Homo sapiens: one gene and its partners. The protein of the gene in region 2 interacts with the protein of the main gene of each other region in a pairwise test. Each region holds a gene or a part of one and is shown on either strand. Other genes may lie near its edges.

What was found.
Region 1: the proteins of G6PC1 (region 2) and SNX13 interact in a two-hybrid assay, tested with the Homo sapiens proteins (one large-scale study listed by BioGRID and IntAct).
Region 3: the proteins of G6PC1 (region 2) and CDH16 interact in a two-hybrid assay, tested with the Homo sapiens proteins (one large-scale study listed by BioGRID and IntAct).

The regions. Positions count from the first base shown.
Region 1 is NC_000007.14:17,934,934-17,945,078, reverse strand, and holds the start of SNX13 (sorting nexin-13), read left to right. Parts: upstream 1-4,584; 5' UTR 4,585-4,783; coding exon 4,784-4,795; intron 4,796-10,145. UniProt on the Homo sapiens protein: May be involved in several stages of intracellular trafficking. May play a role in endosome homeostasis. Acts as a GAP for Galphas.
Region 2 is NC_000017.11:42,893,447-42,903,691, forward strand, and holds the start of G6PC1 (glucose-6-phosphatase catalytic subunit 1), read left to right. Parts: upstream 1-7,352; 5' UTR 7,353-7,430; coding exon 7,431-7,660; intron 7,661-10,245.
Region 3 is NC_000016.10:66,912,306-66,922,494, reverse strand, and holds the start of CDH16 (cadherin-16 isoform 1 precursor), read left to right. Parts: upstream 1-3,609; 5' UTR 3,610-3,691; intron 3,692-4,416; 5' UTR 4,417-4,429; coding exon 4,430-4,474; intron 4,475-4,769; coding exon 4,770-4,853; intron 4,854-6,065; coding exon 6,066-6,221; intron 6,222-6,291; coding exon 6,292-6,430; intron 6,431-7,093; exon of another isoform or gene 7,094-7,116; coding exon 7,117-7,275; intron 7,276-8,082; coding exon 8,083-8,279; intron 8,280-8,881; coding exon 8,882-9,004; intron 9,005-9,213; coding exon 9,214-9,364; intron 9,365-9,603; coding exon 9,604-9,831; intron 9,832-9,914; coding exon 9,915-9,991; intron 9,992-10,064; coding exon 10,065-10,189. Other genes in the region: RRAD (GTP-binding protein RAD), read left to right, coding at 142-419. UniProt on the Homo sapiens protein: Cadherins are calcium-dependent cell adhesion proteins. They preferentially interact with themselves in a homophilic manner in connecting cells; cadherins may thus contribute to the sorting of heterogeneous cell types.

The DNA of each region.
Region 1 (10,145 bases), on a different chromosome or scaffold from region 2:
TGTGGGCTGCACATAGTGATTTCCATCCAAGGAGGATAGCATAGAACGGGGGAAAATGGTAACTTTACAGTGGAGAAACTTGACAAACACTATCTCATTCAGGTGATAAAGGTCAACATCACCAGTGATAAATCATGTTGATAGTATGAATCCTTGATAGGTAATGTGGTGCAAATTACTAAACCTCTAGTGGCCTCTAAGGGTAGTGATCTACTGTAATGGTCTTTTTCAAATGTTAAATATAATACATGCAAAATGTCTACCACCAGTGCCTGGCCCATAATAGATACTGAAAAACAGTATCCATAATTAAGAATTAAATGTTTGAAAAGTGCTCTAAATTTTTGTTTTCAAAATGATTGACTGAGGTGTCATTGATGTAGTAATACCTCTTAATTATTTTATAGACTTTTACAAATTTATAATGTGGTTCTTTCTATTTAGATCTTTGCATTGTGGAGCTAATATTGAAAGCATTTGTGTACATTATTATTTTGTTATGGCTGCATTTGTTAGTAAAGCCTCATATTATTTCTGCTTCTGTCTTTCTGTCTTGAGTTGGCTCAACATTGCCTCAAAAAGAATCATGCAAGAAAAAAGTACATGCTGGGCTAGACTTCAGAGTACTCTTAAATGCTCTGAGATTTCTGCTTACTACTGCCCTATTAAAGCTGTAAAAAAGAATCGGGATATCCAACTCTTATCTGTTCTTAGGATGTCTCCTCTGTTGTCAATGCATGATTTCAATACCAATTTGCAGGTTTTGACACCAATCCTTGTTAATGAGTATATAGTATTTAATGTTCAGTAGAGATGGTAGATGACACTGACAATATTGCATTATGAAGAAACTGGAGTTAATAGAATGCTTTAAGACATCAAAAGATTAAATGACACAACTGTTTGCTAGATGCAATTTGCCTAGGAGGTTAAAGGCATACTTTTCCTGCTTCTCAAAAAGCAATTAGAGCCAATTTGTGACAACCTGAATATGTAGAAGAAATTGTTTTTGTTTCAAAACTAAAAAACAGGCAACTTGGATATTCCGAATTTTTGCTTGTAGGTTTAGAAATCACTGGCAGTGGCTTGTTTAAAAGCATCTTACGGCCGGGCGCGGTGGCTCACGCCTGTAATCCCAGCACTTTGGGAGGTGGAGGCGGGCGGATCACAAGGTTAGGAGACGGAGACCATCCTGGCTAACATGGCGAAACCCTGTCTCTACTAAAAATAAAAAAATAAAAATAAAAAAAATTAGCCGGGCATGGTGGCAGGCGCCTGTAGTCCCAGCTACTCGGGAGGCTGAGGCAGGAGAATGGCGTGAACTCGGGAGGCGGAGCTTGCAGTGAGCAGAGAGCGCCACTGCACTCCAGCCTCGGTGACAGAGCGAGACTCCGTCTCAAAAAACACACTTGACTTTTGCCTCTTACCTCTTTTTGTCATGCTTTCCTGTGTTAATCAGACAGACTGGACACTGCTGCTGAGGAATCAAACCTTTTGCAGTAACAGTCACAGATGCATCCCTTACGATAGCTTGCTTTGTTTTAATTTCTGATAGCCAAAGAACCAGGCATCTCAGATCACCCTGTCCCAGGTTTCCTCTGTAACAACTGATATGAATAGGATGTTTTTAAGACATGGAATCTGTATCAAATTAGGTGCTTTTTTTTTTTAAGCTAGCTGTTTCTATAAGCATTCTCTTTTCCAACTATATAACTCCTTAATTTCCGTAAGTCTCTTAAATAGTATACCTTATTCGCTTTGTTGCTTCCCTTCCTAGGAAATTAACTTTGACTCATGCCCAAGATGTATTTAAGAAAGTGAAGGAGGCCAGGTGTGGTGGCTCATTCCTGCAATCCCAGCACTTTGGGAGGTCAAAGCCTGAGGATCTTTGAGGCCAGGAGTCCAGAGACTAGTCTGGCAACATAGTGAGAACACATCTCTACAACAAATTTAAAAAAAGGAAAAGAAAAAAGGTGAAGGAAAAGGCATAGCTCACAATTTTGTCCTAAACTTTTCTGTAGCATTCTAGTGGAAGTAACAATTGTCATACACTTCAACATTCCAGTGGCAGAAGTGATGTTCCTATTAATTGGAAGACAAGAGAACACACAATGGCCAACTTTTAAATAATTTAATCTTTCAACACCAAGGATTTTGTTTTTAAATAGTTTTAATTAGGTCTTTTCCTTTTAGTGTCTTTTAGGCAATGATTCACCCATTCATTTATTCACTTAAGAAATATTTATTGAGCATCTACTCTGTGCCATCTACTATTCTAGTATTTTAGGTACTAAGGAAACATTGAACAAAATGAAAAAAAAAAAATCCCCGATCTTGTGGAGCTTACATTCTAGCGGAGGGAAGGCAATAGAAAATAAAAATAGAAAATGACGATGTTAGAAGGTTAGAAGGTAAGTACTATGAAAAAAACAGAAGCAAGGAAGGGAGGATTCTGGGGAAGGGGCAATATTTTAAATGAGATGATTAGGGTAGGCTTCTTTGAAAAAAGATGACTTTTAAGCAAAGATTGGACAGAAGTGGAAGATCTAGCCATGCAGGTATTTGGTGGAAAGATCTTTGCAGATAGAAACTATACACAGTGTAAGGGCCTCAGGGCAAGAAGATGCCTTGGTGTTACAGAAGCAGGGAGCAGGTCTGTGTAACTGGAACAAAGTGCTTAGCAGAAATGAGGTCAGAGGGGTGGAGGTGAGGTAGGACTTGGGAGGCCAGCTAGCATAGGATTTTTAGGTTGCAGAAAAGACTCAGGCTGAGAAAATTAGGAAGCCATTGGAAGAGCGACTACTTTTGGTTTCCTTGTAAGTCTGTAGACAAACTTCTGAAAGTTAAAGGCATATTCATGTCATATCACAGATTGGTTCAATACTCAAGTGTCAACACTTAATGCCTTGCTTCTAGAAAAGATAAAAAGATGTAGTAAATAAAACTGAATACTCAAGCCAGACAACTACATTGCTGTTTTAATTTACTAGCTGGTATCTTAAATATTAATGAACCTCCTTCTCTGTTTTCTTATTTACAGGTTGGAACACTATCTTTTTCCAGGTTCCTTGTTGTCTCTAGTATCTCTTGGTATCCTTTGATACCTCAGTCCAGGTAGGATTTCCATGCTCATTTTCTATTTGTGGCTTCATCTGTCAATACCAGTAACACATTTTATTGTATTGCAGAGGTCAGAATTTTGCTGGTCCAGCAATGTGGAAATGATGTACAAAATGCAGATTAAAACAACAAGAAAAACTACTTTGCTTCAATTAGTTGAATTGAGCAAAATCAGTTTTTCTTGAATTTTTTGCATGACTGCTTAAATGAACCGTTTTGTTTCCTTGACACGATAGAGATAATACAAGGTTTGCAATGCCCTTATTGTTTTGAGACTGTAAGAGTAATACATTAAGTAAATTTCATTTAGCACAACAGTACTATTGTTAAATGGAGGGAAAAGATTCTGGTAAAAGGGAAGAAACTCCTGGCTTTAGTTTTCTAAAATGCTTTTGTACCTCTTGTAAGAATGACATGGAGGTGTTTTTAATGTCAAGTCTGAAAATTTGCTTTTCAATTTACTTGGAAACTGGTTTCTAATACAAAACAGGGTAGCACACTTTCCCAGCATGTTCAGGTAAACTACTTTCATCACAATTCAGGTAGAAGTGACTGCCTTTAATTCCGTACATCGCAAACCATCTAGTGGTAGATCTAGAATGGCGTCAGTCTCAGGGACTTCTATGCACATTGAGTTCCAGAGTTCAATTCCATTTAAGTTGGGACTATTTACAATGACATTTGCTGAAATTTGCTCACCTTGATATACAAGCATATTGTATTAAGCAGCTAGTAAACCTGTGGAGATAGCAGGTAAAACGTAAAGCCTGTTTTACGTTTTTTTAGAGGTGCATTACTTGTAGCATAACTAAACCTTCATTGTTAGGCAGGTGCTGGCCAATTACATCAGCAAGTCCTAACTCCGCTAGGATCGGGGTAAAGCCGATAAGCCGCATCATATCTACAACCTGTCTCGGACCCCTGTAAAGAACTCACTGAGGATTGGTAGGGACAAAGGGAAGTTTCTGTCAAAGTTTAGGAGAAAAGGGCCGCGCAGGGAGCTGTTTCAAATAACACTTAAATCCCAGGAGAAGAAAGCCGAACCCCAACTCTTCGGTCGCCGCGGGGCCAGGGAGACGCGAGAGGGAAGTTTTTCTAAAGGAAATCTGCCGCCTTGTCCCCAAGACCAGCGAGGTCCGCAGCGCCATCAGTCAAGTGTCGGCCTCTGGCATTTTCTCCTCTCCCCAGGGCGGGCCAACGCTAGTGGGCGGTGGATGATGCGCCGGCCCCAAGGGCGCGCACGTCCATTCCCGGAAGGCTCGGGCGCTGGGGCCCCTCTGCACTCCCAGCGGTCCCAAGTTGGCCCAGGCGCCCGGTCCCGGGGTCCTACAAGTCAGCGCCAAGCCGACTGCCGACAGCCTACCTCCGCTTCTCCGCGCGCCGGCGCTATGGAGACGGTCACGAGACGCCAGCAGCCCCTGCGCCCGCCAATGGGAACGCACGTTGCAGCGAGACGCGGACGTCGCTCTTCCAAGATGGCGGCGCGTCCGTCGCGAGCGACCGGGCCGAGGGGAGGCCAGCGAAGCCGAGTAAAACCGCCGCCCGGGAGAAGACTGAAGGAGCAGTTGCCGCCGTTGGCGGCGGCCCGAGCAGTTTTCGCTGCTGCTACGGCTGTTGCCATGAGGCGAGGCTAGGGAGGACCTCACTTCCCCGGGGTGTAATAATGTTAACTGAGGTAAGCGGCGACGGTGGCCAGTGTTTACCTGTGAAATGGGGAAGGGGCCGGCGCCAGCCCGTCAGAGAACATCATCTGTACGGAAGGTGGGCCTGACCCTTCGCCGTGGGCTCCAGGGCCCGAGGAGCAGCGGGGATCCTACAAGTGCCCTCAGAGTAGGAGCTGTGCTGACTCAACAGAGTCCCACCACCTCCGGCTGCCAGTGCCTCGCCTTTCGCAGTTGCCACTTGCCACTCGCCCCTGGCACTGGTCTCCCTCCTGCTGTCACTCCCTTCTAACTCATCGCTCCCTTCTTCGTGTCCCCTTACACGCTACTCTGTGGCAGCGTTGGCCTTTCCACGTTACTGCTGGTTCTTGTGATCCTATGGTTTGCCCTAGGTCTCCTTTCTCTGGTCCCTGGGCTCCAGGGCCCTCCGCCTCCGAGCTCGGTCAGCACCCTGGGGTTGTTGCTCGGCCCGACCGGTTTGTTTCCCACCCTCTACTTTGACTGCTTCATGAAGTGGACTTTTTTATCTCAAGCTGCACATGTATGGCTCAGTTGGGTCATCCCCCTCCCCCACATCCATCACCTTTTCGGTTAAATCGTGGTCATCACAAAGTTCAGTTTAGCATCTGCCACCTTGATTTGCGTGTGGCCCCCTTGTTACTCCCTATGGAATAGTTTTTTTCTTTGGACCTGAAATGGAAGTAGGGCAACTATGACGAACCAATCAATTTCCCTTTTCTAGTGCCTAATGGGCATTGCAAAAAGCCGACTTTTTGAAGAAGTAGAGTTTGCCTTTACTAGCAACACTTTAAGGGGAAGAACTAAATCGGTGCAACTAGGTACTTGACCCAGGTTAGCCCAGTTATGTGTTGTAGTATCTGCAGGTGTAGGTGTCACTGAACATAAAATACTGAACCTTGTGATTTGATGAAATACCTTTTTCGAAGCCTTTCACTTTAAGTACTGTGAGGATCCTGACGTGAGGAACTGACCGGATTGGGCATTTTTATGGGCTGAACTGAATAGGAAACAGTTTTAGTGGGCAATGGGAAGTATTCCTACATGGGCCAAAAAGGAAATACAAACATTTGTAGGTGAGTGGCTTTTATTTTGTGAAAAGTGATGGTAAAGCACGTACTTGCCTGAAATTTCAGGTCCTTGGAACGTGACTAACTTTGAGGAACTTTATACTTTGCTGTTTGTACTTAATCTAAGCACAGAGCCTGGCATATGATAAATACTTACTGGTTGATTGTAACTTCTACAGTACGTATTTTTAGTTGTTTGAAGTTCATTTTATATTTCTAAATTCTACAGATTTTTCATTCTTGGAGTTAATTGAGATTATGGTTATAGCATAAGTTTGTGTTGTGATTAGCAGTAATAGATTAGAAAAAAGAGTTATAAGTAGCAGAAGTTTCATTTTTACCTTAAGTGTGATATTTTAGTGGGAACAGTTAGCCTTATAATAAGTGTTTAGTGTTGTCTCTAATGTGTAATATTATATGATATGATCTTTTCCTTAAACTTAGCTTATGTTAACATGTTTCAGAGTTTTAATACTTTCAAATGAACTACTTGTGTGTCTGCCAGTAAAATGATTTGGAAAGATGGAGCTTTCTCAGCTTCTGTATTTTAATGCAATTTTGCGTTTTAGGGAAATATTTTAAACAGTAAATCAATGATAATATTAAGTAAACTGTACTTTAGTACTTTTTGTGTGAACACTGCACAACTTATAAGTGGCAGAAGCAGGATTCCAACCTTGGCAGTTGCCACCTAGCCCATTCTGTTAACTTTTCTAGATTGCCTCGCCAAAGTAAGACCCAGATTAAATTGTACTAAAGTCTTCCCTATAGTTTTCAGTAGTCGTTTATAGATTAGGAAACTGAAGCCAGAGACTCTTGTCCAAGGTCAATTATTAAATATTAGTGACAGTCGAAACTGGAATCTCATCTCCTAACTCTCAGTAGAGAGCTCTGACCGTTTTGCTCAGCTGCCTCTCAAGTAGTTTTCAGCTCTCTTGATAGATTTTAAAACATGCTATTGTACTTCCTTGTCTGAATATTGTCAGTAAACTGAAAATGATTATTACTTAAAAAAGACTTTCTGCTTTACCTTAGCTTTTTTTCCTTTTCATTTTTTAAACAAGGCTTCTAAGCCTCGTAAACTAGTCCTATTTTGAGATATTTTAGATATAAAATTTCACTCAATATTGGCTACTACAAAATTAGTGTGAGACTTCCTTTTTATTGCTTCTGCTAGACATTGCTGACTTAGATCAGCAGCTTTTAGGAGATGTGATTTAATTCATGTTAGGTCTCAAAATGTGTAGTGATGAGCTGTGCTATGAAAGATTCTCCTGTCTTTATATTAGTCATGCTCAGCAAGCATTTACTGTGCTCAGAAAGTGGTGAATTGTAGTATGTGCCTGGATTCTTTACATCTCAACACTGAGGTAGGTGATATCCCCATTAACCAATGATAAAACAGGTTGAGAAAGTTGAAAGAGCTTACTTAGAGTTGTATAAAGAATGGAGGAGACAGAAATCATATTTAGGTCCTCTTATTCCACATTGTGTGCTTTTTATGACTCAGTGTGGAATGCATCATTAATTTTCTTTGTAGCTGATAAAATCAGCATACTATTTTTATTTTTTTTTAACCAAGGTGAGGATACTAAGTACATAGATACATAATGAGAATAGTAATGATAAGTGTTCATATGAAACTTTTCAGTTTTGCGTTTTGTGAAAATATATCTTTTTTTTTTTTTTTTTTTTTGAGACGGAGTCTTGCCCTGTTGCCCAGGCTGGAGTGCAGTGGCGCGATCTTGGCTCACTGCAACCTCCGCCTTCCAGGTTCAAACTATTCTCGTGCTTCAGCCTCCCAAGCAGCTGGGATTACAGGCGTGAGCCACTGCACCGGGCCAAAAATATATCTCTAATTGAAACCTTTTCAGAAATGAGAAGCCACACAAGTGATCAATTAAGGACCATTTTATATTAAGCTAAAATGGAATATCACTCAGTTGAGCAAACTAATATGTACATTGAACTTTGAGCCTATGAAATATAGATTAATGTAAATTGAAAGTATAGCTCCCATATAGTTCTCGATGTAAACTTTTTGGCTTCAATTTATATTATTTTATCTTAAATACAATGGAATTATTTAGAAAACTTGCTAGTCATATTTATGTATGTATTTTTTTTTTTTTTGCATTTTACATACAGGGATGAGCTGTATGTAACGTCTAGCTAGTTTTTTTTTTTTTATTTTATTTTATTTTTTTTAATGTTAGTTTTTTTCCCCTTCTGTTGTCCTTGCTCCTGTTAGGACTTCCTGCTTCTAATGTGACTCCTGCTATACTTGGCAAAAAATTTGTCATAGTGTACATGAAAGTTACTTGTTTAATATTCACTCCTCACTCTCCCTCTATCCCTTCTTTTTTTTTCTTTTTTTTTTTCTTTTCCCCTAACAGTAAACTTCATATATCGAAATTAGAGCATGGGATGTTTGTTTACCTGAGAATTTGTTTTAATTAATCCGAGTTTTCACAACATTAGAAGATAATGAAATATTTATCAGTGAATTTTTATCAAACACACTTTTAAACTTTTCTTGATACCAGGAGCAATTAGGATTATAATTCTGAGCATTTATTATTACAGAAAACTAAAGGTAAGAAATGTGGGAAAATGTGCTGAATACATTCCAGTGTTGTGGCATACTTTGGAGGTTGTTTTTGCATGGAAACCAGTTATCAACGTGTTGTCACTTGTCCTGTGTTTTAAAAAATAATAAACAGTGTAGCTATTTAAAGCTATTAGTTGTTTGAGTTGTCTGTAAATATGAATCATTAAGTGACTATTAAATAAAAATAGTTTCTATTTGTGTTGTTACTTCCATCCAGATTTGTTGCTTTTTCAATATTAACACTGATTCTCAGAGTTAACAGATCTGATATAAATGGGAAAAGGCAAAAAATGCAGCACTTTGAGAAGTTCCAGGTTAATAGTTGTTAAGTAAAAGGTTTTGTAGTTGAAATAAATTTGGAGGATATTTGCCTAAAGAAAGTTAATAGGTTTCTTCTCTGGATGACTTAACATAGTTAGTTTTTGATAGGTGATTTATTTTCAAAGAAGATGATAGAATTTACAGCATATTGCAGAGTCATTTAACCATGGAGGTGAATACACTTTCTTGTATTTCACTTAGGGAAATCCTGGAGTGATGAGTTACGTATCAAGAAAGGCTCCCTGAACATCCAGGGGTCCTTTTGAACACACACATGCACATACATCATACATCCACGCTCACACACAGTTGTCTTGCCCATAAGTGCTTAGTAAAATATTATGACTTGGTTTTGTTGATTAATATATTTGTAATAGAAATACTCTTGGGGCACATTAATCTTTAAGCTATATAAGCTATTTCTTCAATTATTAATGACACTGCAAGAGCTACTAACCAAAGCAAGAAGACCATAGGTCCACTGGCATTCAGAGGTGTCAAGAGGTAGGAAAGGGATTTTATAACGGGAGTGGAAGGACATCAGTATCTAAAATGAGTTTGGCTTGCCACTCTACACACAGCCTTACTTGGCATCTTTTGACAAACCAAGAGGAATATTGATAAACATTCTTAAAGAATTTTTTCTTTTTAAATATTATTTTAATTGACAGTCATTTTTATGCATTTATGGGGTACAGGGTGATATTTTGAAATGTGTGTACAATGTGGAATGATTAAGTGCAGCTGAATAACATATCACCTTGATTATTTTCTATGGTGAGACAATTGAAATTTAGTTATTTAAAAAATAAAATACATGATTGTTGACAGTTGTTTAATTGATCTAAAAATTTCTTCCTTCTATCTATCTGAAACTTTGTACTCTGAGCAGTATATCCCCATTGCTCCCTCTTCTCCAGGCTCTGGTATCTGTCATTCTGCTGTCTACTTCTGTGAGTTTGACTTCTTAAATTTCACATATAAGTGAGATCGTGTGGTATTTGTCTTCCCATGCTTGGCTTTTTTCAGTTAGCATGATGTTCTCCATGTTCGTTCATGTTGTAGCAAGTGACAGAATTTCCTTCTCTTTTAAGCCCAATTAGTATTCCATTGTATCTACCACCTTTTCTTCATCTGTTTATCCATTGATGGACACTTAGGTTGATTCTTTGTCTTGGATTTTGTGACTAATGCTGCTGTGAACCTGGGAGTGCAGATATCCTTTCAACATATTGAGTTCCGTTTTTTGGAAATATACCCAGGAGTGAGATTGTATGGTAGTTTTATTTTTAGGTTTTTGAGGAACTTACATACCATTTTTCATAATGTTTGTATTAATTTGCA
Region 2 (10,245 bases):
CTTCTCTCCTCAAATAGCCCTTCTTTGCCTCTGGGATACAGACCAGGACCAAGGGGAAAGAAAGCCTTTTAAAAATAGTCCTGGCCACACTTTTGCAGGTTTCCTTCCCTTGCCTCTGCCTCTCTAGTGCACCATCAGCAAGTTTAACTCCTGGCAGGAAGGATGAAATTTGACAGCAAGAATGTTTCTTAACTTCCTTCCCTTGCCTCTGCCTCTGTAGTGCGCCATCAACAAAGTTTAACTCCTGGCAGGACGGATGAAATTTGACAGCAAAAATGTTTTCTAACTGCAAAGGTGGTTTGGCACTGCAAAGGGTTGATTAAGAATGGGAGAAGAGGTTGGGCGCGGTGGCTCAAGCCTGTAATCCCAGCACTTTGGGAGGCTGAGGCAGGCAGATCACTTGAGGTCAGGAGTTTGAGACCAGCCTGGCCAGCATGGTGAAACCCCGTCTCTACTAAAAATACAAAAAATTAGCAGGGCGTGGTGGCACGCGCCTGTAATTTCAGTTACTCGGGAGGCTGAGGCAGGAGAATAGCTTGAGCCTGGGAAGCAGAGGTTGCATTGAGCTGAGATCACGCCACCGCACTCCAGCCTGGGCAACAGAGCAAGACTCTGTCTCAAAAACAAAAACAAAAAACAAAAAACAAAACAAAACCAGAAAAGTCTACCATCTGTTTGTGAGGGAACTAGTTAAATGTTCGTGGAAACAGGTTACTTCCTGGAGGGAACAACAGCTTCTTTTGGGAAGGGGGCTAAGGAAGAGCGAGGTGAAGAAGAGGAAGGGCAGTTCGTGCTTCCCATAAAGGTTCTGGTGACTCATTTGATTTTGGAAGAAGGCAGGCCCTGGGATGGCAGGAGGAAGGTATCTAGTGGGGAGTTCTGAGATGTTTACAATGCGGCAAATGACTTCAGGTTTTCTTCTGTGCACAAAATGTGCAGCCCATCCTGAGACACGCTCCACGCTTCCCCTACCTGCTCAGTTCAAGGTCCTAAAGCTGAACTTTCTCACTGTGCCAGAGAGAAGCCAGCCCTTTGCACTGGCGAACAATGATTAACCCGCCTCTCCCTCCACCTGTTTTTCTCAACATGTTTTTCTAAAACATAAACTGGGTCACTCACTTAGAAGGTGACAGCAGTTGATCTGGCCAGTTTCCCATGTCCACCATGAAACACTTCCTCCATTGATCACTTGGTAGGGAAAAAAAAAAGCATACAAAAGAAAAGTAATTAAAAACAAAAATAAAACTGTACATTTTGCACTTTGGGCTGTAGCCCTGCTGCTCGGACGAAGCTGTGAACTGGAGCTAGGTTTCGAATCCCATCTATAGTATGTAGAAAACACCCATTCTAGGTCAGGCACAGTGGCTCACACCTATAATCCCAACACTTTGGGAGGCTGACAGAGGAGGACACTTGAGCCCAGGAGTTACAGACCAGCCTGGGCAACAAAGTGAGACCCTGTTTCTACAAAAAATACAAAAAATTCGCCGGGTGTGGTAGCACCGGCCTGTAGTCCCAGGTACTGGAGAGGCTGAGCTGGGAGGATTGCTTGGGACCCAGGAGGTCGAGGCTGCAGTGAGCATTGATGGGAACAGTGCACTCCAGCCTGGGCAACAGAGTGAGACCCATCTCAAAAACAAAACAAAACAAAACAAAACAAAACAAACCTATTGTAGGATGATAACTGAGTAAAGGAAAGGTGGCTCCTCTCTCAACAGAATCCAGAGCCCCCACCCAGAATAGAAGATACAGCTTCAGGTAAAATCAGACTTTCTTTTTGGTAGTAAATGCAATTTTTGGATGAGGTGTGTGGTAAGTTACAGCTCCTTTTCCCTCTTTGCTTTCTCGTCTGCAAATAAACTTGTTCGAGTGAATGAGTCAACCTTGCCCTGGGAGAATGTGCCAGGGCCCTGGGCCCAGCTGCACTTACTCATCAGCAGACCAGACTGTACTTCCTGGCATCTTTCCTTCATGTTCTTCTCAAGATCCAAAGCCTCTGGATTTCTAGTTGTGGGGAAAATGCCTGAGGAGTGGCTTGCTTGGGTACCTACCAAAGAGGAGCCCAAATGATTTTCCATCCTCATTCCTTCCCCAACTCAGCTGGCCATTTCCCTAGAGGGTGTTAACGAATCTTCTCTACCGAGGACAAAATAATAGGGAACTCACTGATATTTCTACAAAGGAAATCAAAATATTTCATCCCAAACTATGGCTCCCAATATAATAAGTACTTTTTTTGTTCGTTTGAGACAGGGTCTCGCTCTGTTGCCCAGCAGGAGTGCAGTGGCACGATCACGACTCACTGTACCTCCCGGGTTCAAGTGATCCTCCCACTTCAGCCTCCCGAGTAGCTGCAATTACAGGTGCCAGCCACCTCACTGGGCTATTTTTTTTTTTTTTTTTGAAATAGGGTCTCTTTCTGTCACCCAGGCTGGAGTGTAATGGTGTGATCTCGGCTCGCTGCAACTTCCACCTCCTGGGTTCGAGGGATTCTCTTGCCTCAGCCTCCTGAGTAGCTGGGATTACAGGCGCCCACCACTACACCTGGCTAATTTTTGTATTTTTAGTAGAGATGGGGTTTCACCATGTTGGTCAGGCTGGTCTTGAACTCTTGACCTTGGGTGATCCACCCACCTCAGCCTCCCAAAATGCTTGGATTACAGGCGTGAGCCACTGCACCTGGCCAATTTTTGTATTTTTTGTAGAGATGGGGTTTCACCATGTTGGCTAGGCTGGTCTCAAACTCCTAAGCTCAAGTGATCCACCAACCTCAGCCTCTCAAAGTGCTGGGTTTACAGGTGTGAGCCATCGCACCAGGCCGTGACTATTTTAAATAAAAAACCCTTGAGAGGTTTTTTCACCCTTGGGAGCCTGGAAGAGATTTTTTCCCCTATCTTTCACCTATAAAGATAGGACTGGCCGGGCATGGTGGCTCATGCTTGTAATCTCAGCACTTTGGGAGGCCGAGGCGGGTGGATCACCTGAGGTCAGGAGTTCGAGACCAGCCTGGCCCAACATGGCAAAACCCCATCTCTACTAAAAATACAAAAATTAATCGGGCCTGGTGGCACATGCCTGTAATCCCAGCTACTTGGGGGGCTGAGGCACAGGAATCGGTGGATCTCAGGAGGCAGAGGTTGCAGTGAGCCAAGATCATCGCATTGCACTCCAGCCTGGGCAACAAGAGTGATACTCCGTCTCAAAAAAAAAAAAAAAAAAGGACTGACACAAAAGAACAATTGTTCTTCTCCTTCCTTTATCCCATTATCCATCACAGAAAAGAAGACCAAAAATGTAACCATAAAAAAGTCTCAACAGACCCTTTTTCAAGACAATGACTGTCTCTGAGGACCATTTAAAATCCAGGGAGAACTATTTACAAGTTAATTTCTGTTCCTCGATCCAATCATTCTCCCTCTGCCCTTCGACAGAATTCCTCTTCTCCTCCTTCCCATAACCTGTTTTTAACAGGATCCAAGCCACCCATTCTTTCTGCAACCTCAAGATGGTGGATGAGCTTCCATACCTCACTGGGAAGTTGGATCTTCATTCTTAAGCCTCCCATGTATACATGTTAAATACATTTGTAATCTTTTTCTCATATTAATTAATCTGCCTTATGTCAGTGACTTTTCAGCGAACTTGTAGGTAGTCACTCACATAAGGATCCTCCAGTTTACATAGTTTTGTAAATGTCAGGTCACCCTGTCCCACTAGACCACCAAGGTCCTGGAGGACACCTGGGATTTAACTTTTTTTTTTTTTTTTTTTTTTGAGACAGTCTCGCTCTGTCACTGAGGCTGGAGTGCAGTGTCAGGATCTCCACTCACTGCAACCTCCACCTCCCGGGTTTAAGTGATTCTCCTGCTTCAGCCTCCCGAGTAGCTGAGACTACAGGTGCCCCTCATCATACCCGGCTAATTTTTATATTTTTAGTAGAGATGGGGTTTTGCTATATTGGCCAGGCTGGTCTTAAACTCCTGACCTCAGGTGATCCACCCTCCTCAGCCTCCCAAAGTGCTGGGATTACAGGCGTGAGCCACCATGCCCAGCCTGGCTTTTAACTTTTAATTCCTCAGAGAGCCAGGCATGGTGCTTTGCTCAGGAAATGTTGGTTGAATTAAACCGGAGCACTTCTTGAAAAGGGAAAATAACAAAGAGTTAGAAGGAGATGGCGGGAACCCCTCTCTGGAGATAGTTCTTTAAATTAGTGGATTCTGCAGGGCACTGTTGCTCATACCTGTAATCCCAGCATTTTGGGAGGCCAAGGCAGGAGGACCACCTGATGCCGGGAGTTTGAGACCAGTCTGGGCAATGTAGAGAGACCCCCATCTCCACAAAAAATAAAAAGTTAGCTGGGTTTGGTGGTGTGCGCCTGTAGGCCCAGCTACCCAGAGACTGATGCAAAACGATCCCTTAAGCCCAGGAGACTGAGGCTGCAGTGAGCTGTGATGGTGCCACCGCACTCCAGCCTGGGTAACAGAGTGAGACCCCGTCTCAAATAAACAGATAAATGAGTGGATTCTCAGCAAAACTTCTAGCCACTCGCCTCATATATCCACAAGACCTTTGAGAATCCACGGTGTCTCGATGCAGTCAGCTTTCTAACAAGCTGGGGCCTCACCTGTTTTCCCACGGATAAAAACGTGCTGGAGGAAGCAGAAAGGGGCTGGCAGGTGGAAAGATGAGGACCAGCTCATCGTCTCATGACTATGAGGTTGCTCTGATCCAGAGGGTCCCCCTGCCTGGTGGCCCACCGCCAGGAAGACTCCCACTGTCCCTGGATGCCCAGAGTGGGATGTCAACTCCATCACTTATCAACTCCTTATCCATAGGGGTATTCTTCCTGAGGCGTCTCAGAAAACAGGGCCCTCCCCATATGCTGACCACATAATAGAACCCCTCCCAACTCAGAGACCCTGGCTGCTAGCTGCCCTGGCATGACCCAGACAGTGGCCTTTGTATATGTTTTTAGACTCACCTTGACTCACCTCTGACCATAGAAACTCTCATCCCAGAGGTCACTGCAATAGTTACTCCACAACAGAGGCTTATCTGGGTAGAGGGAGGCTCCCTACCTATGGCCCAGCAGCCCTGACAGTGCAGATCACATATACCCCACGCCCCAGCACTGCCTGCCACGCATGGGCTTACTTTACACCCACCCACAGTCACCAACACATTACCTGCTCTCCAAGGTTAGGCGTGGCAGGAGAAGTTTGCTTGGACCAGCAGAAACCATGCAGTCAAGGACAACTGGAGTCAGCATGGGCTGGGTGCGAGCCCTTGGTGGGGTGGGGAGGAGACTCCAGGTCATACCTCCTGGAGGATGTTTTAATCATTTCCAGCATGGAATGCTGTCAACTTTTGCCACAGATTCATTAGCTCTGAGTTTCTTTTTTCTGTCCCCAGCTACCCCTTACATGTCAATATGGACTTAATGATGGGAAATTCAGGCAAGTTTTTAAACATTTTATTCCCCCTGGCTCTTATCCTCAAAAAATGCATGAATTTGGAGGCAGTGGCTCATGCCTGTAATCCCAATGCTTTGCTAGGTTGAGGCGGGAGGATCACTTGAAGCCAGGAATTTGAGACCAGCCTGGGCCGCATAGTGAGACCCCGTTTCTACAAAAATAAATAAATAAATAATAAATAATAGTGATATGAAGCATGATTAAATAGCCCTATTTTTTAAAATGCATGAGTTCGTTACCTGATTCATTCCCTGGTTCCTTTCACAGTCCTCCGTGACCCAAGTGTTAGGGTTTTGGTCTCTCTACTATTTGTAGGCTGATATATAGTATACACACACACACACACACACATATACACACACACAGTGTATCTTGAGCTTTCTTTTGTATATCTACACACATATGTATAAGAAAGCTCAAGATATAGAAGCCCTTTTTCAAAAATAACTGAAAGTTTCAAACTCTTTAAGTCTCCAGTTACCATTTTGCTGGTATTCTTATTTGGAACCATACATTCATCATATTGTTGCACAGTAAGACTATACATTCATTATTTTGCTTAAACGTATGAGTTAAAACACTTGGCCAGGCATGGTGGTTCACACCTGTAATCCCAGAGCTTTGGGAAGCCAAGACTGGCAGATCTCTTGAGCTCAGGAATTCAAGACCAGCCTGGGCAACATGGAAAAACCCCATCTCTACAAAAGATAGAAAAATTAGCCAGGCATGGTGGCGTGTGCCTGTGGTCCCAGCTACTCAGGAGGCTGAGGTGGGAGGATCACATTAGCCCAGGAGGTTGAGGCTGCAGTGAGCCGTGATTATGCCACTGCACTCCAGCCTGGGAGACAGAGTGAGACCCTGTTTCAAAAAAAAGAGAGAGAAAATTTAAAAAAGAAAACAACACCAAGGGCTGTAACTTTAAGGTCATTAAATGAATTAATCACTGCATTCAAAAACGATTACTTTCTGGCCCTAAGAGACATGAGGCCAATACCAGGAAGGGGGTTGATCTCCCAAACCAGAGGCAGACCCTAGACTCTAATACAGTTAAGGAAAGACCAGCAAGATGATAGTCCCCAATACAATAGAAGTTACTATATTTTATTTGTTGTTTTTCTTTTGTTTTGTTTTGTTTTGTTTTGTTTTGTTTTAGAGACTGGGGTCTTGCTCGATTGCCCAGGCTGTAGTGCAGCGGTGGGACAATAGCTCACTGCAGACTCCAACTCCTGGGCTCAAGCAATCCTCCTGCCTCAGCCTCCTGAATAGCTGGGACTACAAGGGTACACCATCACACACACCAAAACAATTTTTTAAATTTTTGTGTAGAAACGAGGGTCTTGCTTTGTTGCCCAGGCTGGTCTCCAACTCCTGGCTTCAAGGGATCCTCCCACCTCAGCCTCCCAAATTGCTGGGATTACAGGTGTGAGCCACCACAACCAGCCAGAACTTTACTAATTTTAAAATTAAGAACTTAAAACTTGAATAGCTAGAGCACCAAGATTTTTCTTTGTCCCCAAATAAGTGCAGTTGCAGGCATAGAAAATCTGACATCTTTGCAAGAATCATCGTGGATGTAGACTCTGTCCTGTGTCTCTGGCCTGGTTTCGGGGACCAGGAGGGCAGACCCTTGCACTGCCAAGAAGCATGCCAAAGTTAATCATTGGCCCTGCTGAGTACATGGCCGATCAGGCTGTTTTTGTGTGCCTGTTTTTCTATTTTACGTAAATCACCCTGAACATGTTTGCATCAACCTACTGGTGATGCACCTTTGATCAATACATTTTAGACAAACGTGGTTTTTGAGTCCAAAGATCAGGGCTGGGTTGACCTGAATACTGGATACAGGGCATATAAAACAGGGGCAAGGCACAGACTCATAGCAGAGCAATCACCACCAAGCCTGGAATAACTGCAAGGGCTCTGCTGACATCTTCCTGAGGTGCCAAGGAAATGAGGATGGAGGAAGGAATGAATGTTCTCCATGACTTTGGGATCCAGTCAACACATTACCTCCAGGTGAATTACCAAGACTCCCAGGACTGGTTCATCTTGGTGTCCGTGATCGCAGACCTCAGGAATGCCTTCTACGTCCTCTTCCCCATCTGGTTCCATCTTCAGGAAGCTGTGGGCATTAAACTCCTTTGGGTAGCTGTGATTGGAGACTGGCTCAACCTCGTCTTTAAGTGGTAAGAACCATATAGAGAGGAGATCAGCAAGAAAAGAGGCTGGCATTCGCTCTCGCAATGTCTGTCCATCAGAAGTTGCTTTCCCCAGGCTATTCAGGAAGCCACGGGCTACTCATGCTTCCAACCCCTCTCTCTGACTTTGGATCATCTACATAAAGGGGGAAGACAGAAAAAATCCTACCAGTGAGTTGAAAATACAGGAAAGCCTATTTCATATGGGTTAAAGGGTAGGACAGTTGAATTTCGTGAAAAGTCTGAGTTATATAGGCTTTGAGCAAAGAGTTTTATTAGTATGAAGCAGAAGAGGTAACATAAAGAAAGATGTATGGGGCCAGGCATGGTGGCTCACACCTGTAATCCCAGCACTTTGGGAGGCCGAGGTGGGCGAATCACTCCTGGGTGAACTCAGGAGTTCAAGACCAGCCTGGGCAACATGGCGAAACTCCATCTCTACAAAAACATTACGAAAATTAGCTGGGCGTGTTGGTGCTGTAGTCCCAGCTACTCAGGAGGCTGAGGTGAGAGGCGGAGGAGGTTGCAGTGAGTCAAGATCATGCCACTGCACTCCAGCCTGGGCAACAGAGTAAGACCCTGTCTCAAAAAAAAAAAAAAGATAGATGATGTATGCTGTATGAAAAAAGGAAACACACAGATGATTCAACAGCCTGTTTTGTGGGGTAATGAAAAGTCACCCTGGGAACTGGGCTCCAGCCCTCGTTCTGCCACCCACCAACTACATGTCCTTGGCAAGTCATATCAATTATCTGAGTTTCTGTTTTATAATCTACAAATAGGTTATCTCTGGCAGCTTAATAATAATCAGGGTTAACATTTATTAAACAGTGTGTGCCAGTCCATGTGCTATGTGCTTTTCTGTGAGGTAGTTACTGCTATTTACAGAAACAGTAGATGCAGAGACCAAGGTGCTGAGTTAAATGATTAGGCCAACAAGGTTAGTACATGCCGAGCCAGGATGGAAGCCCAGGTAGGCAGGCTGGCTTCCGCGGCAATGCTCTTATGAACTATGTTACGTCCAGTGCTGATAAACTGACTCTCTGGGGAGCAGGGGAAAGCCCTGAGTTTAGCATTTGCCAATTTCTATCACGTAAACATTCCCATTCTGGCCACTTTCTTTCTTTCTTTCTTTTGTTTGTTTGTTTGAGATGGAGTCTCGCACTGTTGCCTGGCTGGAGTGCAATGGTGCAATCTCAGCTCACTGCAACCTCTGCCTCTCCGGTTCAAGTGATTCTCCTGCCTCAGCCTCCCAAGTAGCTGGGATTACAGGTGCCCGCCACCATGCCCAGCTAATTTTTTTTGTATTTTTAGTAGAGACATGGTTTCACTATGTTGACTAGGCTGGTCTCGAACTCCTGACCTCATGATCTGCCTGCCTTGGCCTCCCTAAGTGCTAGGATTACAGGCGTGAGCCACTACACCCAGCCGCATGATTCTAAAAAATAAAAAGATGAAGTGTTATTCCAAACATCTGATCTCCATTGAAGAACCATGCAATCTCTCTGGGTTGATAGAGGCCAGAGTTAGTGGCTCTCCCTGATTTCGGTGAGAAATCACTATTCCACCATCACGGGATAAAAGGCATCCTGACTGGCGGTTGACACCTATTTCCACAGTGAAAGATATATCTAGTACTTTTAAAGGGGAAGTGGTTTGTCTGAGATACTCTGTTTCAAAGTAGAGAGGATACAGAACAAGCATCTGAAGCTATATACATCCTTACAGAGAGCAATTCTGATGGAAATGCAGGCCATGTTTCCCTGGGGGGGGCTCGTCCTAGGGGCTGGAGTGCATTCTCTGATGTCAGAGGAAATGCAAGATTCCCTGAGGCCTGAGGGAACCCATGGTATATGCAAGTCCAAGTTTCAAACTGTAGTTCCATATGCATTCTTCCAGGACAAATACTTCTTGAGGTTAAAAAAAAAAAGTCACATAGCTGCCATTTTATGGATTTCAGGATTTTTTTTTTTTTTTTTTTGAGATGGAGTCTTGCTCTGTCACCCAGCCTGTAGTGCAGTGGCATAATCTCGGCTCACGGCAACCTCCGCCTCCCAGGTTCAAGCGATTCTCTTGCCTTAGCCTCCCGAGTAGCTGGGATTACAGTCACGCACCACCACATCTGGCTAATTCTTTATATTTTTTGGTAGAAACGGTGTTTCACCATGTTGGCCAGGCTGGTCTCAAACTCCTGACCTCATGTGATCTGCCTGCCTTGGCCTCCCAAAGTGCTGAGATTACAGGTGTGAGCCACCGCGCCTGCCTGGAGTTCAGAATCTTGGGCTTCATTATTTGTGTTTAAATAGATCATACAGTCAGGCACGGTGGCTCATGCCTGTAATCCCAGCACTTTGGGAGGCTGAGGTGGGAGGATTGCCTGAGTTCAGGAGATGGAGACCAGCCTGGGCAACATGGTGAAACCCCGTCTCTACTAAAAATACAAAAACTAGCTGGATGTGGTGGCACACACCTGTAGTCCCAGCTATTCAGGAGGCTGAGGTGGGAGGATCCCAGGAGGTAGAGGTCACAATGAGCCGAGATTGCGCCACTGCACTCCAGGCTGGGTTACTGAG
Region 3 (10,189 bases), on a different chromosome or scaffold from region 2:
ACAGGAGCTGGGGTCTCTGTGTTTTCGGGGAGGACCTTGCAAATTCTCGAGTGGCAGCTTCCATGGGTGGCCACTGTTGGAGGGGACTCCTCATTCACCCACCCTTTGTTTACTGGTGCCTGCCTTTCCCCACCCACACAGAGGGCCGGGCCTGCGCGGTGGTCTTTGACTGCAAGTTCATTGAGACATCAGCGGCATTGCACCACAATGTCCAGGCGCTGTTTGAAGGTGTCGTGCGCCAGATACGCCTGCGCAGGGACAGCAAAGAAGCCAACGCACGACGGCAAGCAGGCACCCGGAGGCGAGAGAGCCTTGGCAAAAAGGCGAAGCGCTTCTTGGGCCGCATCGTAGCTCGTAACAGCCGCAAGATGGCCTTTCGCGCCAAATCCAAGTCCTGCCACGACCTCTCGGTTCTCTAGGTCCCACCCGCTCCCACTATGGTGGGAGACGAACGGAAGGGTTGGTGGGCTGGCCCAGCCAACTGCCCCGGGTGCCTCAGAGCAGGCTCAGACTCTGGGTCCCTCGGAGCTGCCAGCCGGGCACCCCCAACCTCATGGTCATGGACAGATAGACAGTGCTGCCCTGCGAAGTGGCTCTCAGGGGCCAGTGAGGGCTGGGCCCACAGAGATGCATGCGCAGGCTCATATGCGTCCCAAGCAGCCGCAGCGCAGCCGCCGGGCAGGCCTGCGTGCCGGGAGAGGACTCTGCCTTTTTTCACAGCCCGGGTGTGCCTGCCCTGGAGGGAGGCTCTTCAGTGCGGTAGCTATTTGTTTACATGCAGATTTTTGTAATAAAGGCTATTTCCTGATAGTCATGGCTGTTGACTCTCTTTCCTCCTATCTGGGCGCTTCAGGAGCTGGAAGGATTTCTGAAGTTGAGGGATGGGGGCTCACTGCCCCACCCTAGTGTGTGGCCATGATGTGTTAATGTGAGGGTCCAGATTTAGCCAGCTGGGATGGGCATCGGGTCTGGTTAGAGGTTCAAGGAGCAGGAGACACAAACCCCTCCCAGTCCCTGTTATCCAGATTCTTCTCTTTCTGCACTGGGGCCTGGCGTTGCCCAACTGATTGAGGGTTCAATCACTTCACTGTCCATAAAGGGAAACAGGCTGCTCAGGGGAGCACATTCTGCCCTGGGTCTCACAACCAGGCAGGAACCCTGGGTCTCACAACCAGGCAGGAACCCTGGGTCTCACAACCAGACAGGATCTGGCTCCACAGCTGGTATTTCTGCCCTGTTCCCTCTTGAGGGGCTGGAATCAGCTGAGGTTGGGGATAGAGACCTCCGAGGGGTGGTTTGTGAAGGCACACACAGCTCCACATGGCTCCTCCACCACTTCACTGGGGTTGAGCTACGGAGGAGGCACTCACTGTTCTCTCTACCATGAGTATCCAGGCCAGAACATTCCATGCTCAGCATTGGCTAATTCAGTTTTGGTGGGAACAGCTGCCGGGAGCCCGCCCTGCCTGGAATGAGAGGTCTTGCATTTGTATAGGAAGGTGTACTCGTGCTTATGTTTAGGGATGCACCTGTCTCCCTGCCCACCCATGCCCATGGCTCCCTCACCCTCGGCACAAGTGCTGCTAAGAGTTTTTATCTACATGGTCTCAGGAAAAACCATCCCCATCTGGTGCTGGGTGGGAAGTGGCTGAGTGGGGACTGGTATACAGGTCTGCCCATCTCCAAAGCCTGGAGGCAGCCTGGGGCGAGGTGGGGGGCAGTTTCTAAGAAGGTTCTGGGCCAAGGTCCATACATTCCTTCCTTAGTTCAATTTATTCAATTTATTCATTCCCTCACCCTCGGCACAAGTGCTGCTAAGAGTTTTTATCTACATGGTCTCAGGAAAAACCATCCCCATCTGGTGCTGGGTGGGAAGTGGCTGAGTGGGGACTGGTATACAGGTCTGCCCATCTCCAAAGCCTGGAGGCAGCCTGGGGCAAGGTGGGGGGCAGTTTCTAAGAAGGTTCTGGGCCAAGGTCCATACATTCCTTCCTTAGTTCAATTTATTCAATTTATTCATTCCACAGACTCCAGGGAGCCCTGGCAACCTGGTTAGAATCCTGATTGCAGCTTATTGAATGGCAGGAGGAGGCTTGAGGGCTGCCCCTCCATGTACAGGGGAGCGCTGAGATTCACCCACGTGCTCCCCAGGGCAGAGGTAACTGCTCAGAGCTGTTGCTGCTCTGCCCCTCCTCCCCACATACTTCAAGGAATGCAGAAGGCATGGTATTTTCAGATCAAGTGAGGGTCCCCAGGCCTTCCTGGCTCTGTCACTTATTGACTGTGTGACCCTAGGCAAACCACTCAGCTTCTCTGTGCCCCAGCATGTGCCCAATGCCCCTTCAGAACGCAGTATGTGGCATAATGAAGGTATGTGCTCAGAGCAGTGCTGGGCACAGAGCAGGAGCTTAACACGTGTGAAACCCCCTTCAACCTCCCCACACTACACTGCTCCAGGCTGGGTGCCAGAGTGACCCTGAAGCAGGCACTCAGCTTGTGACAAGGCTGGGGGCAGCTGGGGGTAGCTTCTGGCCTGAGAGAGACTAATCAGATGTACAGTGGGAAGGACTTCGTGGGGACCATGGGAAGCTCCAAGGCTGGAGAGGGACTGGAGACCTTCTTCCCACCCTCTCCCCTCATTCCAGACTCCCAGGCCCCAGAAGCATCTCCTGGCTCTGCTTGGCTGCCCTCATTGCGGGGAGAGCCCCTGTTCAGCCCTGCAACTCCCTCAAGGTCACCTGAGCCAGTTTAATCTTCTTAGGGGCATGAGACTGCCCACTGTCTCAGCCCTGTCACTGTTGAGTGGCCAGTGTAAGGACTTCGGGAGCTCATAGGCTGCTGCACTCCCCCACCACAGGTCCCCCTGGGGGGGGTGGTCTGGAGCCCCAATACCCACTTCCACTCATGTACTGCTCACCCATCCTTTGCAACCTCCAGCTCCTTGTCTTAGTTCCACAAGCCATGCGGAGCTGCCAGGGCAGAATGAGAGCCAGGTCATTCCTGAGTCCCTGAGTTCTGCTCTCAAAGGGCTCCCAATCTAATGGAAGAGGCAGACAATGACAAGCTGGTGTCCTCTGTGTATTAATAGAGATAGCACATGGCATGGTGTGAGGGGGAGGGGCATTCCCAGAGGAGGCTCCTGAACAAGCCTGGGAACATAGGGGAAGTTTCCTGGAAAAAGGAATATTTGAGCTGAGCACTGAAGCATGCATGAGCAGGTGCTTACCACACAGATGAATGAGTGGGAAGGGTGTTCCATGCAAAAGGAACAGAGTGTGAAAAGGTGTGGCTGCAGACACTGGAGCCTGGGAGATAAGTCAGACCAAGTCTGGAGCCACAGAAAAAGTAACGTCCAGAACCAGAGGGCCAAGGAATACCTCCTGGGCTGTGCTGGGGTCGAGGGAGTGCCAGGCCAACCATCTCCCCACCTCCTGGAGCTGGCAGTCACGGATGCTGAGCAGCTCCTGGCTTTCCAAAGTCAATGAGTAACTTGGGGGGCTGGGCGGGGCCAGGCCTGCTGCTGTGGGCCCAGTGGCCTTTTCCACTCCTGAGCAAGCGTGGCTGAACCCTCCTACCTGCTCAAGTGCCCTGCCTTGCCCCACCCAGCCCAGCCTGGCCAGAGCCCCCTGGAGAAGGAGCTCTCTTCTTGCTTGGCAGCTGGACCAAGGGAGCCAGTCTTGGGCGCTGGAGGGTGAGGGGCTGGGAGTGGAGGGGAGGGCATGGCTGAGGCTGAGGTTGGTGGTGGGGAAAGGAGAAACACTGCCCTGTCCTCGCCATCTGGGAAAGAATTCCCAGGGCCTCATCTTAGAGGGGTTGTCGATTTGTCGCTGCTCTGCCTGCCCAGCTCCATGACAAGGGCTGGAAAATGATGAGACAAGGGCCGGGCTCCTGCTCCGGGGGTTCTCCTTGTCTAGAAGGTGGCAGTGGGAGGCAGGACAGTCCCAGAGGCCCTGAGCTAGGAGGACTCCTCCTGTGGTCAAGTCCTCTGTGACCTTGGCCAGACCCCAGCATTCAGGCCTTGCCTGCAACAAGAGGTGACTTCAGGAAGTGACCCTCCAAGTCTTCAGGAACTTTCCAGCTTCAAACTTTTGTGATTTGGGGGATTGCTAGAAAATTACCACTTTGGGATCTGCGGCCTGGGGAGGCTATGGTGAGAAGGAGCTGGAGGTCTGGAGGTGAAATTCTGATAGAGTGCTTGATGGACCAAGAGCCTAGAAGCAGGGTGGCTGGGCCTGGGGGCCTTGGTGGGCCTGGCCGAGGAGCAGGGCACTACCCTGCAGGAGATGGAGAGCCTCAGCTCCTTTGGAGGGGAGGAAGAGAAGACTAGTCTGCAGTACGATCCCACTAGTTGTGTGTGTGGGATGGAAAGCCCCTCCCTACCCACCTGGGCTGGATCCTCACTGCCGTGTCCCTCAGGCCTGTCCTGACCATGGTCCCTGCCTGGCTGTGGCTGCTTTGTGTCTCCGTCCCCCAGGTGAGCTAGGCCCTGCCCCCTCTCCTTCAGGTCTTGGCTTTGGGGGTTGACACCCTTGCCCCCAACTCCACCTGGACCAATTGCACTGACCGTGAGAACGGTGCAAGGCATGGGAGGGGTCAGAGCTGGGACTATAGAGCCACTGTGGGATGAGGAGGTCAAAGACCAGAGCGCGGGTGGATGGACTAAGGTACAGCCAGGCCCTGGGAAGGGGCGGAAATTCCGCTCTTCTGTTGGGTCTCAGTGCCCACGCAGGAAGATAGAGCCTGGTGACAAGGTGAGAATCCTCCCACAGGCTCTCCCCAAGGCCCAGCCTGCAGAGCTGTCTGTGGAAGTTCCAGAAAACTATGGTGGAAATTTCCCTTTATACCTGACCAAGGTGAGCCGGAGAGCTGGGGTTGGGGCCGGGGGGATCCCTCCCCGCAAAGTCCTGCTTCTCCTTCCTCTGGCACCCTTCCTCTTGCTGTTTCTCTTTGAAATCCTGCTTTCCAGAGAGTATGTACACGTTACACAGGTTGAGTGTCCCCTATCTGAAATGCTTGGGACCAGAAGTGTTTCAGATTTTGGATTTTTTTTTTTCTTCAGATTTTGGAATATTTGCATATATATCATGAGATATCTTGGGGAATGGAACCCAAATCTAGATAGGAAATTCATTTATGTTTCATATACATCTTATACACATAGCCTGAAGGTAACGTTATACATTTTTTTTTCTTTTGAGACGAAGTTTCGCTCTTGTCGCCCAGGCTGGAGTGCAGTAGCATGTTCTCAGCTCACTGCAACTTCCACGTCCTGGGTTCAAGAGATTCTCCTGCCTCAGCCTCCTGAGTAGCTGGGACTACAGGCATGCACCACCACTCCTGGCTAATTTTTTTTTTTTTTTTTTGTATTTTTAGTAGAGACAGGGTTTCGCCATGTTGGCCAGGCTGGTCTTGAACACCTCACCTCAGGTGAGCCGCCCGTCTTGGGCTCCCAAAGTGCTGGGATTACCACTTTGGGATTTGCGAGCTGGGGAGGCTATGGCCAGAAGGAGCTGACAGTACAGAGGTGAAATTCCGACAGAATCCTTGAGTGGCCAAGAGCCCAGTGTGAGTCTGCTCCTGGGCGAATATTTTTAATGATTTTGTGCATGAAACAAAGTTCTGACTATGTGTTGACTGTGACCTGTCACATGAGGTCAGATGCGGCATTCTGTACTTGTCACATCATATTGGCGCTCAAAAAGTTTCAGATTTTGAGTATTTCAGATTTCAGATTTTCGGGTTAGAGATGCTCAACCTGCAGTGGGAATGACTAACAGATTTTAATCCTAGTGGAGAGCAGAGCTTTAGATTAAAGAACGAAATCTCGGTGGTGAGGTTTCAAGCTTCAGAAAGAAGGGCAGAGAGTTTTGGGGAGCATCAGGTCCAGGGAAAAGAGTTCTGGCTCTGAGTCTCAGTCCTGATGCTTACTGGCTGTGTGACCTCTGACAGGAGCCAGATGTCTCTGAGACTCAGTTTCCCCACATGTAAAATGAGGCCATCAGGTGGAGGAGGGGCATCTCCCAGGCCTGGCCACCGCTCCCTTCACTTCTGTTCATTTCCATCAGTTGCCGCTGCCCCGTGAGGGGGCTGAAGGCCAGATCGTGCTGTCAGGGGACTCAGGCAAGGCAACTGAGGGCCCATTTGCTATGGATCCAGATTCTGGCTTCCTGCTGGTGACCAGGGCCCTGGACCGAGAGGAGCAGGCAGAGTACCAGCTACAGGTATGGCTGGGCCAGGTGTAGGGGAGAGCAGGCAAGGCAGAGCCAGACGCTGACTCCCCTTCCCTGCCAGGTCACCCTGGAGATGCAGGATGGACATGTCTTGTGGGGTCCACAGCCTGTGCTTGTGCACGTGAAGGATGAGAATGACCAGGTGCCCCATTTCTCTCAAGCCATCTACAGAGCTCGGCTGAGCCGGGGTACCAGGCCTGGTGAGTGACCAGGGCAGCCAATTTACAGTAAGGTCAGGTGGGCCTTGATGGAACAGCAGAGAGCGAAGAGATGGCCAGACAGTTGGCATAGGACAGGGCAGCCATTTCTGTCCCATTTCTTTTTTCTTTTCTTTTCTCTTTTTTCTTTTCTTTTTTTCTTTTTTTTGAGATGGAGACTCACTGTCACCCAGGTTGGAGTGGAGCGCAATGGCGCGATCTCAGCTCACTGCAACCTCCACCTCCTAGGTTTAAGCAATTCTCCTGCTTCAGCCTCCCAAGAAGCTGGGATTACAGGCACCCGCCACCATGCCCGGCTAATTTTTTTTGTATTTTTAAAAGAGACGGGGTTTCGCCTTGTTGGCCAGGCTGGTCTCGAACTCCTGGCCTCAGGTGGTCTGCCTGCCTCAGCCTCCCAAAGTGCTGGAATTACAGGCATGAGCCACTGCACCTGGCCCATCCTGTACCATTTCTGTCCCACCTTGTTCCTCCCTACTCCACTGAGGGTGCCATCCATTCTTGGCTTCAGTTTGCTCATCTGGGAAGTAGGACGAAAAGCCGTGGCTCATCTCCGGAGTCCTGATGTGATAATGGATAGGGAAGAAAGGACAGAGGAGAAATAGGAGAGGCATGGGAGACTCTCCCCACCCTCTCTATCCCTTACAGTTTGCCCTCCCACCGTGAACCAGGCATCCCCTTCCTCTTCCTTGAGGCTTCAGACCGGGATGAGCCAGGCACAGCCAACTCGGATCTTCGATTCCACATCCTGAGCCAGGCTCCAGCCCAGCCTTCCCCAGACATGTTCCAGCTGGAGCCTCGGCTGGGGGCTCTGGCCCTCAGCCCCAAGGGTAAGCCCGAGCGGGGTGTGCTGGGGAGGGAGGGTCAGAGAAAGCTGGAGAAGGTGGTATCTGAACCATAAGACAAGCATGGGTGGGAGCTTGAGAGGTAAAAAGGGAGGGAAGGGCACTCTAGGTGGAGACAGCAACAAGGCAGGGGGCTGTGGAGGCAGGGCCAGGCATGGAGAGCTAGGAAATGGTGTGAATGGAGGGCCTCAGCTCCACACTCCACGGAGACCTGGGCCTAAGGGACAAAGATAGGAACAGTCTAAGGGGTTGTAGCCTAAGATGCTGCTGGGCAACCTTGCGACTGATGGCGGAAGAGACCTGGACCTGGAAGCTCAGACCAGAGGCATGAACTAGGGTTGGAAAGAAAAGTGAATCAGGCATCATCATAGCCAGCCACGCATTCACCCGTCTACCGCCCAACAACCTACACAGTCCATCCAACCTCCCATCACTCATCCAAACACTCTCCTATTCACACACTCAAACTCCCATCCACCTACCAAGTCAACCACCCATTCATCCAACCAACCCATCATCTGCCATCTACCCATCTCCTCATCCTGGTCATCCACCTACCTCTCTAGTCTATCACGCATTCGTTGTGTGGAGAGATATGGAGGTGGCTTTGCAAACTGTCATGTCCTTGTTGGAGGCTCACAACAGTGCTTAAAGTTCCTCTCTTCCCTTGGCCAAGAGAGTGTCCCAATCACCTGCTGTATGCTTGGTTTTGTGTCTGGTATCTTGCTGAGAATGATGCCCTGGCCCCTGCTCCCTGGCTGCCTGCTCAGCTGACCATCCTCCCTGTTCTAGGGAGCACCAGCCTTGACCACGCCCTGGAGAGGACCTACCAGCTGTTGGTACAGGTCAAGGACATGGGTGACCAGGCCTCAGGCCACCAGGCCACTGCCACCGTGGAAGTCTCCATCATAGAGAGCACCTGGGTGTCCCTAGAGCCTATCCACCTGGCAGAGAATCTCAAAGTCCTATACCCGCACCACATGGCCCAGGTGAGTAAGTGGCTGTCAGTGGCTGAAGCAGCCCCATGGATGGTGCAGCCAGGCCCGAGTCTCATGGATATTTGGGGGCTGGGTCTGGAACCCTCATGACCCGTGCTCCTCCCTCCACTCTTCCCATTACTTCCCACTGTGGACTGGGGTGTTCAAGGCCCTGGACGCAGGCCCACAGCCCCTCGCCTGCTCTGCCATCCTCTAGCAGGCGTGACTCTGTGCTCTGACCTCTTGAACTTGCCCAGGGCTTCCTCAGAGAGAACAGCTGCCATCTCTTGCTGCCATGGGGATTGTCACCCCGGGCCAGGAATGTCTCAGGCCTCTTCTAGGAATGCCCTGGGGTCAGGCCCAGGCTGAGAGGGCAGAAAATAAAGTAACATGGTCACTCAAGCACTTTGGGCAGGGTCCAGGCTTGGATCAGGGCAAGGCCACTAACAACATGTGCCCTGAACAGAAGGATCCCACCTGGACTCCAGGCCCAGGGAGGGCAGCACCTTGCCTGGGTCACACAGTTGGGCTCAGGCTCCTCAACGAGAAATCAGATGGGGCGCAAAGGCTGACATGGATTGTTCCTGCCCCTTGGCCCGGGGTGTCCCCCCCAGGTACACTGGAGTGGGGGTGATGTGCACTATCACCTGGAGAGCCATCCCCCGGGACCCTTTGAAGTGAATGCAGAGGGAAACCTCTACGTGACCAGAGAGCTGGACAGAGAAGCCCAGGCTGAGGTGATATGAAGGGGGAGCCAGGGATGCAGGCTGGGGGTGCTTGGTCAGTGTCCAGTTGGCTTTTGGGGGTGTCACAACTACAACAGAGGCTGAGGCAGTGGGAAAGAGCCCCGAAGAGCTGGAGCTGGCCCACCGGAAGGAAACTCAGAGCCAGGCAAGGCTGGAGCTGCCCTTGGTCCTGACCTGAAGCCCCCTACTGCCCACCGCAGTACCTGCTCCAGGTGCGGGCTCAGAATTCCCATGGCGAGGACTATGCGGCCCCTCTGGAGCTGCACGTGCTGGTGATGGATGAGAATGACAACGTGCCTATCTGCCCTCCCCGTGACCCCACAGTCAGCATCCCTGAGCTCAGTCCACCAGGTGAGCTACAGGATGGGAGAGGGACGAAGTCTCTATTAACCACCTGGTCTTGCTCTTCTCTGGGATAAGGACCCAGCCTCAGGCCCCCATGTCAATGTCCCTCCATAACACACACACACACACACACACACACACACACGAGCTCAAATTCAGTTTAGTTTGGCACAAAATAAGGAGTGGGTGGGGTAAGGTCTCCAGGCTGGGCTGTGGTCCTATCCAGGCGGGTGCTGTCTTGGCAGGTACTGAAGTGACTAGACTGTCAGCAGAGGATGCAGATGCCCCCGGCTCCCCCAATTCCCACGTTGTGTATCAGCTCCTGAGCCCTGAGCCTGAGGATGGGGTAGAGGGGAGAGCCTTCCAGGTGGACCCCACTTCAGGCAGTGTGACGCTGGGGGTGCTCCCACTCCGAGCAGGCCAGAACATCCTGCTTCTGGTGCTGGCCATGGACCTGGCAGGCGCAGAGGGTGGTAAGTGCCCTGATTGGTGACCCAGGCCCCCTGTCCCCTCTGTTCCTACCCTGACCTCACCAACACGTCCACCTCTGCCCTAGGCTTCAGCAGCACGTGTGAAGTCGAAGTCGCAGTCACAGATATCAATGATCACGCCCCTGAGTTCATCACTTCCCAGGTAAGCAGACGCAGGGGAGAAGGCCTTGGGAAGGATGCTGGTGGGGGGCTCACCATCCCTCCTCCTCCTCCAGATTGGGCCTATAAGCCTCCCTGAGGATGTGGAGCCCGGGACTCTGGTGGCCATGCTAACAGCCATTGATGCTGACCTCGAGCCCGCCTTCCGCCTCATGGATTTTGCCATTGAGAGGGGAGACAC